3 separate regions of the Homo sapiens genome follow, and regions 1 and 3 are each linked to region 2. The links come from fine-mapping of genetic effects on gene expression. A gene starts in region 2. Each other region holds a variant in brackets. All regions are shown on one strand. Distances are from middle to middle.

The links. PIP is the estimated chance that this variant, and not a neighbour inherited with it, causes the effect.
Region 1: its variant is fine-mapped to the expression of NRP2 in monocytes after LPS (Fairfax 2014, PIP 0.95).
Region 3: its variant is fine-mapped to the expression of NRP2 in aorta (GTEx, PIP above 0.99). The same link has a PIP of 0.9 or more in tibial artery.

Annotation. Positions count from the first base shown.
Region 1 is chr2:205,742,689-205,747,912 of GRCh38, forward strand. NRP2 (neuropilin 2) reads left to right here. Exons shown (of 17, transcript NM_003872.3): 9 at 515-864; 10 at 3,058-3,202. Among named protein-coding and RNA genes, the nearest start is that of NRP2, 63 kb to the left of the region's middle. RefSeq lists an enhancer at 3,949-4,500. The variant A/G (reference allele first, on the strand shown) is at 2,639.
Region 2 is chr2:205,679,979-205,685,202 of GRCh38, forward strand. NRP2 (neuropilin 2) reads left to right here and starts at 2,523. Exons shown (of 17, transcript NM_003872.3): 1 at 2,523-3,385. The coding sequence starts at 3,313. RefSeq lists a silencer at 1,924-2,043 and an enhancer at 4,518-5,148.
Region 3 is chr2:205,755,591-205,760,814 of GRCh38, forward strand. The region is part of intron 12 of NRP2 (neuropilin 2); the gene reads left to right. Among named protein-coding and RNA genes, the nearest start is that of NRP2, 76 kb to the left of the region's middle. The variant A/G (reference allele first, on the strand shown) is at 2,632.

The DNA of each region.
Region 1 (5,224 bases), 63 kb after region 2:
AAATAATTCAATGTTTAGCTCAGTTCCCCTGTTCTCAGTGTCCCTGATAGGGTCAGTGGGGACTAGTGTCATCGACAGGGATGTGCAGACACACATTCTGAGAGTCCTTGGTTAGAGCTGTAAGCACAAATAGTTAATGGCCATTGGATACTTAAATATGCCAGGCACCATCCTGTGAGCTCTTAGTAACTAACAGAATCCTTGCAACAGCCCTCAAGAGGTAGGCACCTCTATTAGCTCCCCTTTAGATCTAAGGAAACTGAGGCAAAGAGCAATTAAATAATTTGCCCAAGGCCCTCTGACTAGTAAGTGGCAGAGTGAACATGAACACAGGCAGTCTAGCTCTGAGTCCAGGCTCTTAACCACAGTGCTGTACACATTCACCATGCAAAGAAATTAGTGCTGACTTAGTATTTGACAGTTGGGCTCTTTTGCAGCTCCCTTCTTATAGCGGGTGGTCCCTGGTTAGCAGGTGTCAGCCATGACCTCTTGTATCTTCCTCTCCTCTCTGCAGATGCTCCCTGCTCCAACATGCTGGGGATGCTCTCAGGCCTCATTGCAGACTCCCAGATCTCCGCCTCTTCCACCCAGGAATACCTCTGGAGCCCCAGTGCAGCCCGCCTGGTTAGCAGCCGCTCGGGCTGGTTCCCTCGAATCCCTCAGGCCCAGCCCGGTGAGGAGTGGCTTCAGGTAGATCTGGGAACACCCAAGACAGTGAAAGGTGTCATCATCCAGGGAGCCCGCGGAGGAGACAGTATCACTGCTGTGGAAGCCAGAGCATTTGTGCGCAAGTTCAAAGTCTCCTACAGCCTAAACGGCAAGGACTGGGAATACATTCAGGACCCCAGGACCCAGCAGCCAAAGGTAGGCTGTTCTTGGAGGCCTCTGTAACGTTACCCTCAACAGGGAGGCTAAGTGTGGTACAGGGAGTTGAGACTGATGATGTCCCATCTAAACAGTCGTCATCCAACTCCTGAAATCCAATAAAACAAATATCGTTTGAGAGATTACTTTGTGCCAGGCACTGTGCTAAATACCTTATTTCTGACTCTTTTGTTTGTTTGTTTGTTTGTTTTTGAGATGGAGTCTCTGTCACCCAGGCTGGAGTGCAGTGGCCTGTTCTCGGCTCACTGCAACCTCCGCCTCCAGGGTTCAAGCGATTCTCCAGCCTCAGCCTCCTGAGTGGCTGGGATTACAGGTGCCCGCCACCACACCTAGCTAATTTTTGTATTTCTGGTAGAGATGGGGTTTCACCGTATTGGTCAGGCTGGTCTCGAACTCCTGACCTCAAGTGATCCACTTGCCTTGGCCTCTCAAAGTGCTGGGATTATAGGCATGAACCACCGCGCCCGGCCTGGACTCTTTTTTAATCGTTACAACATCTGTGCAAAGTAGATCTTTTTGTCACTCCCATTTTAGAGATGATAAACTGACACTTGATATCATGCCCAGGGTCACACAGTTCACCTGTGATAGAGCCGATTCAGAAACCGGAAGTCTGACTCCAAAGTCCAGATGCCTAACCCCTACTGAACACTGCCTTTTTATAAAGTTCAACACTCTTTATACACTCTTTCAGATAAAGTTTCCTTGAAATTGGCCAGACATCTAAAGGGGATGTGGTTTTTGGAGGCCAAGCTATAGAAACTAGAGGATGACTTCCAAAAATAACGATGTTTTTCTGAATGTCGCTGCATTCCTTTGTATTCTCCTAGTTTTGACTGCTTAGATCTTTCCGGCCTCTCAGACTGAGGCAAGGGAGAAGCAAGAGAAACTCACCCCGAGCCAGAAGCTCAGGCCAGTACAGCTTACTCCCCTGCCACCAGAGTGAAGGTCAGCCTTCAACACAGACACAAGGAGCCCCAGAAGGGGAGGAGACGTCATACCTCTGTCCCTCCCCAGATCAGTCTCCTGGCAGGCCAGGCTCTCTGATTCTTATCTCTAGTTACCCCTTGTTTTTCTCAAAAGAACAGGTCCCTAAAAAAGGAGGGAGTTTGCATGTCTCGGGGCCACCTTTGCTAAGCAAATGTCTCCATTCTGAATACAGAGGCAAGAGTTGGGTTGGAGGTTTTGCGATGCTGAGGTAAACTCCCAGCTCTCAACTCCAGAGGCTTAGAAAGGCTCAGGGCTTGGTAACTGGAACCTTGCATCGATGGAGCAGAAGTTGGACCGCAGGCTTCCCCATGGAGAGCTGAGCCTGGTTTTTCTTGGGAAAGAAGTTGATCTTTGCCATTGTGGGAGACAGCCCTATCCGAGACAGTGCTTCTGGTTCAGAATTGTGGACGCAGGGCATCCTGAAAACTGGAGCGGTCCTGCTGAATTTCTGGGGGCTAATCAGCTGCAGGCCCTGGCCACCCACTCCTGTCCTTCCCCCGGATGAGTGTCTCCAAGTGTACTCTAGGCTGGTCCTCCAAAGCAGCCCCCTGCTCCCCGCATCATCAGTTTTATGTACTGGGGCTCCATGTGAGGTTTCTTTTGACAGGAGTGCTTTCCCTAAACAAAGGTTTGGGAAACAGTCTAAGACTATCGATGTGTGACCAGAAGACAGTGTCATTGGCCTAGGGGTCATTTTCCCGTAAGGTTCTCAGTGAGCTAGGAACTATCAGTCAGCTTGGGTTACCTCAATGGAGGCTTTCAC[A/G]CATTAGAAAAAGAAGTGTTCCTTTCCCTGTAGACCAGGAATTCAGAACGGTCAAAGATCGCCCAAACTGCCTTCCCCCCTCTCTAGCCAAAGTCAGCTGAAAACGCAGTTGGAGCCAAATTCTTCCCCAGATACTCCATTTTAGTCACCAGGTAAAAGACACAACCTGGAAATTGCCACCTTTGTTTACTTCCTATTTTCCATAATTCTGGGTCCATAACCACCTTCCAAATGAATAAAATCCTTGGTCTGAAAATGAAGCTCGCGTGGATCAGAATGTCCCAGTGACCAGGAATCAACTAGGAAGCTGCCTTCCTAGCAGGACGTGCGGGGCAGGGAGGAGAAGGGGAAGGAAAGGGAAGAAGGTGATAGGGACTGGGTCCCACACCAGAAGGGCTGAGTGGCCTCTCTCCCTGCAGCTGTTCGAAGGGAACATGCACTATGACACCCCTGACATCCGAAGGTTTGACCCCATTCCGGCACAGTATGTGCGGGTATACCCGGAGAGGTGGTCGCCGGCGGGGATTGGGATGCGGCTGGAGGTGCTGGGCTGTGACTGGACAGGTAAGATGACATTTCCTCCTCTTTGCATCTCACCCACATGGTCCTCTGACCCTGGCATCCCACGAGGCCCTGGGAGGGCTGTGGAGGGGGCAGCCATCCCAGGAGCTGGAAATGCTGCAGACCCCTGCCATGTTCTCCTGCCTCAGACCACGGGTACTGCAGCCTCTGGACTTGGGACAGTTTCTCAAGGGATGTACTTTGTCTTTTTTAAGGGATCATTTCAGTTCTCCAACCCGAGTCTCTCAAAAACAAATCATAACCACACACCACCCACCCAAATTCAATTAGACCCTGGCTCTTCAGGCCAGAGGGCTGTGGCTGTTGATTTAGGGAAGAAAAAAACCCCTCATGATAATAAAGTAATCGGTTTATGTCTGAATCTGGCCTCCAGATGTCAGTGGCTAAGAGACTTCATTTTCATTTCGGAGCCACATCTGTAAAAGGCATTTATTTGCTCAGGAGGGACCCTGTTGCAGGGAGCTGATGGGGGCAGGACTCCTTCTCATTGTCCTGCTCATTCCTGCCAGGTGGCCCAGGCCTTGGGGAACACCTCTCATCATTCCAAATGAGGGTGAGGCCCACGGAGGGTGCCCAGCCTTCCTGGTTTCCGAGGGAGGGCCCTGCCCTTCTGAGTCAGGCCCTACCTTCCTTTCCTTGGGTCGCCAGCCCTCCTCCCTCAGCAGAGCTGGCACCAGATCTTACCCAGAGCTCACTCACTGCCTGCCAAAAGGAGTTTGTGGGAGCCACTGGGGCTCAGGGACTGAGCCTGATGCCAGCAGGAGCAGCCACCAGCCTGAGCTATCCTGCCCTCCTCCGCCAGAGCCCCAGGTATCCCCATTTTCCTGTCTGTGCCGTACCTGTCACGGGCTCAGCCGGCAGGATGGCATGAGGGATTAATAAGGGCATGTCGGAGAAGTGCTTTTGGCTCCCAGGGAGAAAAATGCTGCCTGTATGCTGGCTACAGCAGCGCAGAGGAGCCCTGTTGAGGCACACGGGCTGGGAATTGGGCCCAAATTAGCCTCCTCACTTTTGAATTGAAGGCAGCCCCAGCGAACACATCTTCATAGGAAGACACTTAACTCCCCATTACCTGGGGATGAGGCCAAAGTTCCCTGCAGCCTGCTAAACGTGTGTCACCCGTCCTCTCACAGGTGCAGAAAACCTCCCCCCGATACAAGCTGGCTTCATTTATGTGCCCTGGAATCAGGGGCTCAGCGCTGTAGGGGATCCAGGAGCTTGTAAGCCAGTGGCTTTCACACACTTCTGCCCATGATACACAATTTAAAATAATTTTCCTTCACAACCCGCTTCACTTATAAGCACTCACACACAGTGGTGTATACGGGGTACAGTGTATGGGTAAGTGCTTGGACTCTGGAGACAGATTGCCAAGTTCAAGTCCTGCCCCTGCCATTGGCTGGCTGCATAACCTCAGAAAAGTTAGTCTCTCAGCGCCTTGGTTATCTTAGCTGAAAAATGGAGAGGACAATAGTCTGTCTACCCCATAGGGTCATTGTGAGGATTAAATGAATGAATGGATGTGAAATACTTAGACTACTGCCTGCACCCAGCAAACCTGTTATGATAAATAACTGTAACTGAAACAAAAGGTTCCCAAAGCAATGGTCATCTTAACCATGGAAGTGCACTCCAAAATATTATAGTCGGTATGTTTTAAAAGCTGGTCATGACCTATTCGACGGATTCCACAACCCAATGATGAGAGTGATGCGTGGTTTGGGAAATATCACAGACCTGGGCCAATTCCTCTTTCATAGACAAGGAAACAGCCCCAGAAGGTAGAAGTCACTTGCCAGAGGTCACTCAGCTGGATGAAGTCCACCTCATTCTTCCCCCCATCCCTTGCCCTTCAGTGCCATGCCCTCCCAGTCTGGCCAGTGGGACAGTTGCTAATGACCTCTTTCCTTCATTGCTCCCCAATCCCAACATGCCCCAAATTACACTGGTGATGGTCAGTGACAGGTTTCTTATTTCAAAGCCCTGCCTGGCCATTCCTTGGAA
Region 2 (5,224 bases):
CTAAGCCCTCTCTGGGCCGGTGGGGTCTTGTTCAGAGTAGGCTGGGGAGAGATCGGCCTCACTCTGAATCTTCCCTGGTCTGATAAAGCACTTTGAACTCCTTGGAATTAAAAGCACCACCAGAAGTGTGACCCTGGGTGGTGTTACCATTATTTATTGAGTGCTGCCCCCTAGAGGATTGAAAAATGGTCTGGCCGCTTGAGTCCCCAGGGATGGAAACCTGAGACTCACTCTCTGTCCAACTGCAGGAAATGAGGCCTTCACTCAAGGGGAGTGGGAAGTCTTGCAGCCCTGGTACAGAGGACTCCCAGGAAGTAAGTGAGCGTCCCCTGTAGGACACCGCTGAAAAATGAAAAGTTACAGTGTAGGCAACCAGGCCAGGAACAAAACTGATTCTTACTTTTCTCTACTCTGGAAGCAGCCTGATGGGGACCTTCATCCCTGAGACCCCAAGACCAGAAGTCCAGGGTTGTCATTCTTATGGTTCTCCAGTGGGCTTAGGTTTACCTTTTCTCTCTTCTTTCCCCCTTTCACAGTGCCCTTCACCTAAACCCTGGCTACATTATTCTCACAAACAGGAGTCTCCCACATTGGGCACTGGCAAAAATGGTTTGGCATGCCTGGTGAGTGGTGGGGAGAGGTGATATTAAATGGCCCTCTCTATTCAGGGACTGTCACTACAGATAGCGTTCTTTGTCCTTAGATTAGCATCTTGGCAATGACATAAACCGGGATCTCTGCTTAAGGTTAATAATCCAAACTGCTCTTTTACTTTGTTAAATATTTAAGGCTTGGAGTCATTCTTTACAATTGAGCTTTAAAGAGGAGAAATGTAAATCTGGAGTTTTTAATAATGTGGATGTGCTCTCAAGCCTAGAAAGGAAGGAAGAAGGAAGGAAAGGAGGGAGGAAGAGGAAGGAGGGAGGCAAAGAGGGAATGAAAGGTAGCATTTAGGCTAGCCAAGAGACATGCTCCCTGGAAGAACTCAGAGGCCTCTGTGCTGTGCCTTTCCCAACCAGGCATCTGAGATTAACAGTGTGATACTCAGCCTGTGGATTTCCACTCTAAAATCCCGCGCCACCCCCCAACACAGCTTGGCTCAACTATTTGCAAATCACTTCTGATTCAATTTTGTTTTGGTTATCTCAGTGTAAATAACAGTTAAGTGGGAGTTACAGATTTTTCAAACACTAAAAGTGATAAAGCTAATGGGCAAGTCCAGATAAGGAGGGAAACCACCCAGAAGAATCCACAAGTACAAGCCAAGAAGAAAATGGGTAGTCAGGTGTGTGTTTCTCGTCACCGAAACTGTATTTTTCTTAATCTACAGAAAATTTTACTTTCTTAATTTAAAAAAAATCTTAATCTGTAAATATTTTTCTGAATTTTCTTATTTTTCATATACCTCTTTTGTGGCAGAAAAGGTGTACATGTGCAGGGTGTAATTTAGGCTGTTTCTGTTGCAGTCTTTATGATAATGTAGTAATAGGTGTCTGGTGAAGCAAGACAGTTTGGAATCCACAAAGCCATCCTCAGAAACAAAGATACAAGTGTTTCCCCAACTGTTAGCTTGCAGTTCCCTCTAAACAGTTTTCACGCCTCCATTTAAAAATAGTTGGCATAATGATGTTTTCTTTCTCTAGGCTTTGTGACCACGTTTCCATGGGGGAAAATGTGAATAGACGTAGTTACAGTAGCATTTGGATGAGACGCCTTCAAGCACCTATACTTTTTCGGGGGAACTTGATGGAATCCAATTTAATTACCTGAAGAAATTATTTGCTGAAGAAAGTCTTTCCTCTTTTTAGGGTAGTTACAGTTAAAGGCGCAGGGGTAACGAAATCCTAACCCAGAGAGGAGCAGAGCATGTTTGGGACATAACAAAGGATCTGAGTAGTAAACGCAGCGAGTGTTTGGGGTTTTATTCAGACCGGGCTGACGGTGTGTGTCGCCGCCACGCACCGCTGCCTGTTCGAACGCATGGCTGAGCTGCCGACCGGCTCGCTACCCCAAACACCGTACGCCACCCAACTCCTCTTGTAACGCCATCGCGCGTGGCATTGTGTTGGGTTCTGCGTGTGTGGCATCGGAGTCGTGGAATTTAGGGGGAACAAGGCTTTTCCCCCCGTCCCCCCGGGGTCTCCCTTGGGTGGGGGCGACACGGCCAAGGCGGCGCGCCCTGGGGGTGCCCGGGGGCGCTTCTTCCCCAGGGCGTTACGCACCGGCGGCCCGGCGCGGAGGTGCGCGGGGGCGATCGGGAGATGCGGGGCGGGCGAGGGGTGGTGGGATGGGCGCCGCCTTAACTTCGATCCTGCGGCGGCCCGAGAGAAGCCGTCGCCGCCCCGCCCGAGCTGGGTGCCGCGGCACTCTGCTCTGCGCCGCGCGTCTCCGCGGCTGCCTCTTTAATCAGGAACACAGAAGGGGCGGGCCCTGAGCCGGCGCGTAATCGGATAGCTCTGCCGCGGCTCTGACATCCACATGCTGCTCGGCCTGAAAAGGCAGTGGGGAGCCGGAGGGGAGGCAGAGATCGCGAGCGAGGCACCAGCCTGCAGCCGGCCCCCAGCACATCCTCAGCCGCACAGACACTCGGCGAGGTGGAGGTGAGGGCGGGCGCCAGCGAACTCGGAGAGGGGCTCGCTCACTCCCAGGCGATCCCAGCCGCCACCGCCGCCGCACCAGCAGCAGCAACAGCAGCAGCAGCTTCCTTCCTCAGACTCCCCTCGAGAGGCTGGCCAAGCGGGTGTAGCCGTTGGGGGAGGCTCCCGCCGGGGGAACCCGGCGAGGACAAGAGCAGGGCGGCCGCCTTCCACTCGGGCTGTCCGGCGGCGGCTGCCTCCGCCCGTGTGTCCGTCAAGGGTGCCGCGGGATGTGTGTCAGTTTACGCCTCTGAGATCACACAGCTGCCTGGGGGCCGTGTGATGCCCAAGGCAAGTCTTGGTTTTAATTATTATTATTATCATTATTGTTACGCTTGGCTTTCGGGAAATACTCGTGATATTTGTAGGATAAAGGAAATGACACTTTGAGGAACTGGAGAGAACATATATGCGTTTTGTTTTTAAGAGGAAAACCGTGTTCTCTTCCCGGCTTGTTCCCTCTTTGCTGATTTCAGGAGCTACTCTCCTCCTGGTGAGGTGGAAATTCCAGCAAGAATAGAGGTGAAGACAAGCCACCAGGACTCAGGAGGGAAACGCTGACCATTAGAAACCTCTGCATAAGACGTTGTAAGGAGGAAAATAAAAGAGAGAAAAACACAAAGATTTAAACAAGAAACCTACGAACCCAGCTCTGGAAAGAGCCACCTTCTCCAAAATGGATATGTTTCCTCTCACCTGGGTTTTCTTAGCCCTCTACTTTTCAAGACACCAAGTGAGAGGCCAACCAGGTAAGCCACTGAAAGTTTTTCTATTTATTGCAACATGGTTTCCCCTTTAAAAGTGACCGCTAAAGCAGGAAGGCCACGCAGAACGGCACAGAAGAAGGCTCCCTCAGTACTCAATAATTTAAAGAGAGATCCCAGCCGGCCCTTCCTACACCACCACGGCTGCTAAAACCCAACTTTCCTCTCCTGCTAGGAGTGTGTGTGTGTGTGTGTGTGTGTGTGTGTGAGTGTGTTTTGAAACAGAATTTGGCGGTGTTCATATGTCACATATGGACTGAATCAAAGGTTTAAAAATACTACAAAGCCTTTGCATTACAGTTTTTGGGAATTTTTTTTCCCTGTCTTGAAGCAGAACACATCTCCCTTGAGTTTCTCCAACTAGCCAGTGAAATATAAATCATTTGCATTCCCTCCACTTAGCTACATTGAGCAATGTTAACTGAAGGGCTTGGGAAAGACAAGAGTTTAGTTTTGGTTTTCAGATGCTGTAGATTCTTTGGAGAATGACTGGTTATGCTTCAGAATCATAAGGCTCAGGCTGGTGGAGCAAGTTGGCTTGTGGCTGAGATAGGGGCTTGGGGTTGGGTGCTGCTGGCAACCAAGACGGTTGGTCTCTTCTCTCTTCATCCATGTGTTGTCTGGGAAAGTAAATCGTACGTTCTTTTAGAAATTATTATTAGCTAAAACAAATTGCAGGCCCTCGAAGGTCTCTCACTCTTGTGAAGTGGTTAGAAACTTTTGAGTGGAATTTGTTCTCAACCACTGCCAAAAAGGGTGTGTGGACAGGCTGCTGTGGAGATAAGCATTTCGAGGCCCAGAACAGTCTGGGGACCGCATTTGTGGGGAGCGGCAAGGGGTATGCTCTGGAAAGGGGAATCCATGGGGAATGCAGTGGGGTTTGTGCTTCCTTCTCGGACCACTCTCTAGAGTGAGCCTCCCTACCCCTCTGAGAACAGTGTCTGGAATCTAACAACAAAACTCTTAGCAGCTGCTACAGGTGATTGGAGATGGAGAAACCATCTATGGAGGAAATGGGTGAAAGAAAGGCGAAAAAGCCTTCCTGAAGTGCCCTCACCCAAGGCACTTGCAAGGCGATGGCGGCAGTGGTAGAGCTAACTCTGCAGCCTCCTTGGCATCCCCAGAACATCAGCTAGTGGATCCTAGCCTTGCATCTGGTACTGTCACCCTTCCTTCTCCTCACGCCCCCCACCAGCACACACACCACTTTAAGCTTGGGCATTTATTTGAGGGGGGAAGAAAATTCAGGAATGCCTTTGCCACCCAGATCCGCACGTTTGCAGCTCTTTCTTTGCCATAAGTGGTCTTCAGGGCAGCTGCAAATCCTGCCAAAGGGATGGGTGGGGGTCCCACTTGGGGAGATTTTCTGGGCCTCCGCCGTTCCCCCTTGCCTTATTTCTAAATTCCCAGCTTGAAGCGGAATTAAATTACCACTCACAGACCTGGATGCTGCGTAAATTATGTATGTTTGTGTGATTCGCTGTGTGTGTGTGCACACGCGCGCGCGCCGTGAGGATGCCCACAGTATATTATGTATTCAGACACGGACTCCAGTAGGCCCCAGCGCGCGAGCGCGCACACACTGGCACTCACACTGGCGCGCACACACATGCAACTTCAGGTTCCGTGTGCTGTGCGGAGCGGGAGGGGTCGTGAAGACTCAGGGGCCATCTCCTACCCCAGATGTTCGCACATCTGTCCCCGAGCGCTGCTTGGAGTGTGTGTACGTGTGTGCGCGACACCCGCTTGGACCCACTCCCGCTCTGCCACCTGCCTGCCGCGCTCTCTGCAGAACCCCCTCCCATCCCAATCCCCAGCAGTGCT
Region 3 (5,224 bases), 76 kb after region 2:
CTTACTTCTTCTCCATAGGGAAAAAAAAAAAAGGAGGGGGAGGCCCTGAGGGGATTGGGGAGAAGGGAAGCAGCTGGCTTGGTTGGGGGCAGAGCAACTGCTAATGGGTTCAGAGCGGCTGGCGCCCACAGAGTCAGCCTGAAAGCCTGTTGTGTGCCACACTTTGCCATCCACAGAGGGGACCGTCCCACTCTTCACGAGCGTGTGCCATATGCTTCATCCCCTGATGAGATAGGCAAACAGAAGTAATGAAATTTAAGAAAGGAGGTGTCTCTGTCAAGTGTGAGGGGCGTCAGGGTGAAGAGAAAGGTGGATGGGAGAGGAGCTAGCCGTGTTGAAGTACCCAACACGGGCCCTATGTGGAAACTGCTTACATTCCTCGGATATTTTCTGATTTCATTATTTTCTCATATTTTCTTTCTTTTTTTTTCCTTTCCTTTTCCTTTTAAGTAAGCAATTAGTTCTGTTCTTTTTGGCCAGTGGTTGCCTAAGGCTGAAAAGCACCCACTGGTTTCATTCCACTGTTTTTGTTTTTCAAGATAGTCTTTCAAGCCAGTCAGAATTTCTGTTTTTAGCTCTTTGCTTGTGGCTTAGCTGCCTGGAGTGTGTTCACACCAGCCTCTGGGGACCCTGTTCCAAATTCAGTGACCCCTGCTAGCTGCGGAGGAACACTCAGTGTTCTCTAAGAGGCCACTTTGGCTTTCCTCTGTAGTGACAATGACATAGGAAGCACCCCCTTACTAGGAGATGGCATGTTTCCTACATTCTCAGGTGCTTTGAACATAGACAGAGTTTTGAGAATGATCAAAGCCCAGCCTTTAAGAACCGAGACAAAAACTCATAGGGCGGGCAGGTATCTAAAGCTGCAGCATTGAATATTGTAGCCATGAGCCATGTGTGGCAATTTTATTTTAATTAATTAAAATGATTACAGCCAAAACTTCGGTTCTGCTGTCCCACCAGCCACATTCCAAGGGCACAGTAGCTACACTGTATTGGTCAGTGCATAGACAGGGCACGTCACTGTATACACGGCATCATCACAGAATGTATTGGACAACACTGCTCCAGTGCTTTGGACACTCACATGAGAGCAACCACCAGGGGCCCTTGATGATTCTTTAGTTCCCTGGTTTTGGTATGAACCAAGAAGCAAGTAATGGAGGGATGTGTCTTCTGTGGGATCCCTTGATGGAGTGTTCAGTGGCTGGTATCTTTATAGCTGTCTCATTCTCCCTCACTAGATAACTACAGTAAAGTAAGCAAGTAACATGGCATTAGATGGTGTAGGAACTATTGCGATTAATCAAAAAGAGCATTGTAAGTAAATATTAATACTAAGTAAGGTCAATAATCATCATCATTGTGATTGTTGTGTCATTTTTATTGTCAGGAATGAGACAAAGAAGATGAGGTAAAGGGTACTAGGCCAGGTCAGCTTCAGAATCCTCCAGTGTGTGTTCCCCCTAAATCTGTGCTCTTTTATTCGTGGGTTGGCCTTGTGAAATCTGATTACAGTATTACTTCAATGACTTTCAATCATGAAAGTGATAGAAAGAAAACAAGCGAAGCTGATATTGAACAGAGCTTTGACTGCCTGGTCAAAGCCTATGGGATTGAGGGAACAGAACCTTTACTCTAGGCTCAAAAACAAGCTCAAATGGGAGTAAGTCGAGAATCTTAATGTTATAAAATACCCAAATTTTACAAACAGTGGCTGGCTATTCCTTCAAATGTAAGAAGTAAGATTGTTAACACCTCACTGGGGCTATTTTGATGCAGACTGAGCCATTGAATGAATTCCGTTAGAGTGGGAGACCTTAGCCATGATTCACGGTGGAGGCGCACACAAGAAGATTAAGTGAAGTGTGGATGGGTATGGTGAGTGGATGGTTGCAGAGAAATCAGAGGAAATAACTGATGAGTGAATTTACTCATAATGGGCTTGATTTTAGACAGTGAGCAAGTGGTGACTGAATTGAAAAGCAACTCTGAGTTCAAAAGATCAGGTGGGACCGATGGCAGCAAACAATCCATTGAATTGCTGTTAGATTGAACTGTCTTCAGAAAGAGGTTGCTGTGGCTTGGCTGGGGCACAGACACTGCAAATCCAGAGACAGAACTTCCTGGGCTCTGGACCATGATAGATAATTAAAGATCAGGAGCAGCTTGGCTAAAAGAAAGCCAATAGTCAAGGAATAATTTCAACTGGAAAAGAAAAGGATAGAGGCCCTTCTTTAAGGAAGGTAGAAAAACATCCCAGGCTTTGCAGAAAAAAATAACAGCAGGAAGAAGCTTTCTTTACCCTTTTTTTTTTTTTCCTGCAAATCATGATTGGTTGAGTCCCCCAGCAGTGTGTGGATTGATAACGAAGGGGCAGAATGACAAGACAGCCTCAATGGCAAAACCTTCATGAAAGCCGGCAGAGTGAAAAAACAGCTCTGGGTAGATTCCTGCAAGGGCTAGGACTGAAACCTTCATGTCCACAAAATGGTCTATTGTAAACCTTGAGAACATCTTGCTAAGTTTATCCAAAGTCAGTGTTTCCCTTAACTGGTTGCTAATTTGAGGACCTTAGCAGAGATAGGCAGACCTTGGAAGGCCAGCTGAGGGCTGACTCATGTTTTAAGC[A/G]TGGACTATGCAAAGAGACTACATCTCCTACAGCACTAAATATTCTTTCAGATGGTCGTTCTAGTAGGAGGGCAAGATGCTAGCCAGGAGATGTGCGTGTTGGACAGATGGTGTGTTTGGCTTTGTGATAGCCAGGAGGATCAAGCTGGTGATTTATTTCAGGGTTTGGTGAGGTGTAGACACAACTGATTCCATTGCTGTTGGGCCAGTCGCAGTCACGTGTTCACATGACACTTAAGCAGCTGAAGCCAGATGCGGCCGTAAATCGCCAGGTGAAATATCAAGAGACCTTTCCAGAGACAGCAGCAGGTTAAAATGCTGAATGGCCCTGTCCTCTGTACTTCCTCTTCACCCTTTTGAACTCCTGTTGTTCATTCCCAGGCGATTGTTTTCCCTGTATCATTGGCAACAACAGATGTTTTGGGTCAAGGACCCAGCGAAATGCCTCCCAAGTATGTCAGGTCCAGGAGGAGAGGAATTGTATCTCTGGGACATTATTTCTTCAATCTCTTTCAGCAATGGAACATATTTCCTTTCCATTGTCTTTTTCTTGGAAGCTGTCCATTGCCGGCATCATAGCCATCAGCTACAAGAACAGGCAGGGCTGGTTCTTAGCTGGTCAGTTGTCACGTTCAGGCGACCTCTTGACAATCCAAAGGGCTTTACCTCAAGGTTCAAGTAAATAAAAAAGTAGCCCCCCGCCCCCACCATACCAGCTCTTTTGACGGTCCAAGTAATCAGTAGCCACTGTATACCTAGAACATCTTCTGTGTCTGACAGTGGTGGGCCATAAATCGGGAGATTCCAGAAGAACAAACTTCAGTTGCAGCACGTGTTTGATCTCAATATCTATGTGTGGGTGCCATGACTTAAAAGAGCTGAAGCATTTATAATAGCTTGGAAGAAGGGTCAGTGGAAAACCAACACTGCCCTAGAAAGTAGACATTTGAACCATGCCCTAGGAAGTAGACATTTGAAGGGGCAAGGGTTCCTAGGGAAGCAAAGACTACGAGTCTTAATTCTTCACAAGTGAAAATGTCTCTAAGTTGGAAAACAGAAATTGGCTATGCTCCATCAGGGGTAGAAGGAGGAAATGTCTCTAAATGACAGCAGGAAAACTTTAAACTGAATTTAAGAAGTTTCTGATGGTTAGGGTTGTAACCTAGAAAACACACTACAGACGTGGCCTATGGAAACTCCTTCTCTGGAGAATTTAAAGCAAAGGGTGGACAGCTGTTCTTGGATGCTTTTGGCACGGTTCCTCCGGGAGGCAGGACTGGCCTGCCCTAAGATCACTTGAGGTCCCACTCTTGTTCCAGGATCATGTAATATTTTATTTCATCTACTGTGAAGCAACACAAAAGACCTGTGGTGATGGAAAACTTGGGGCCGGCTGGTTTCTGGAGAAAGAGCAGATAAGGGGAACCAGTCTTTGTCCAGAGAACATCTTTACTGCCCTCATGCCAAACATACTTCTTTTTGAGTCTTGGATTGGCCTTCCTGGGTTATTGGTGGTCTTTCTATCCTTTTTGTTTCCTAGTAAAATAAAGGCAAGCATAGGAGGGAGTGTGTAGAGTGATATTAATAGTAACAACTTTTCCTGAGCTCTTAATGTGTCCTTGTTACTGTGCAAAGCACTTTACATGGCTCATTCCATTTACTCTTCCCCCAACTCTATGCAGTAAGACTGTCTTTGTATCCATTTTACAGATGGAAAGACTGAGGCTTTAAAAGCTTAGTGAGTTAGGCTGGGAGTCCAATCCAGATGAGAAGCTATGCTGTGGCAGGTTTACTGAGTCCAATGAGGATTCAAATCCTACGTCACTCCAATTCTCTGAGCCTCAGTTTCTTTTTGGTGAAAATGGAGAAGATGGTATTTATTTTGCAGAGCTAGATTTCACAGGGAAGGTGACATCAGGGGAGGCAGGTAAAGCCTCCCGTGTGATCGCGCACAGGCAGCAGGTGTTCAATGTGTTCATTCCTTTCCCCCTGCTCTTCTTCTCCCTTCCTTGGGCTTTTCCTGGTCTGAGTCATTCCTTCATGATGTCCCTGGTTCTAATCAGGCCTCTGTCAGTGACAGGCGCTTTGCAGCTCAGCATCTCTCTGACTGATGTCTACTGCTAATTCCTTAAATTTACATATCATCTTTCTTCCCTGGAGCTCATAGCACTTAACAGACAAGTGGGGCACAAATGATTTAACGAAGTGAAATCCAGAGGCCTGCTCGTCTGGAGATTCTGCAGACTAGTGGATTAGCTCAGATGTCAGCACTGAATTATGATCCTTCAGCTGCTTGTGCTAAGCATGTCACTAGCATTAACTCCCTGGTCTTGCAATGTTCCCCTAAATCATGCATAGAGATTGTCATTTTATCGTGAGAGGGAGATGGGAGAGAAGGAGAAAGGAGAGAAGAGGGGAAGGGGCTACCTGGTGGGGTGGGTCACTGGAAGGGGCAGACTGTGAAACCTTTGGCCTGGCTGTGCCTGGAGTTTCAGTAACAGGAAGGGTAAGTAGAACAGACCCAGATACAATCCATTCAGCCCAGTTCTTCACACTTCCACACACATTTCACTTACCAAATTCTAACCATGAT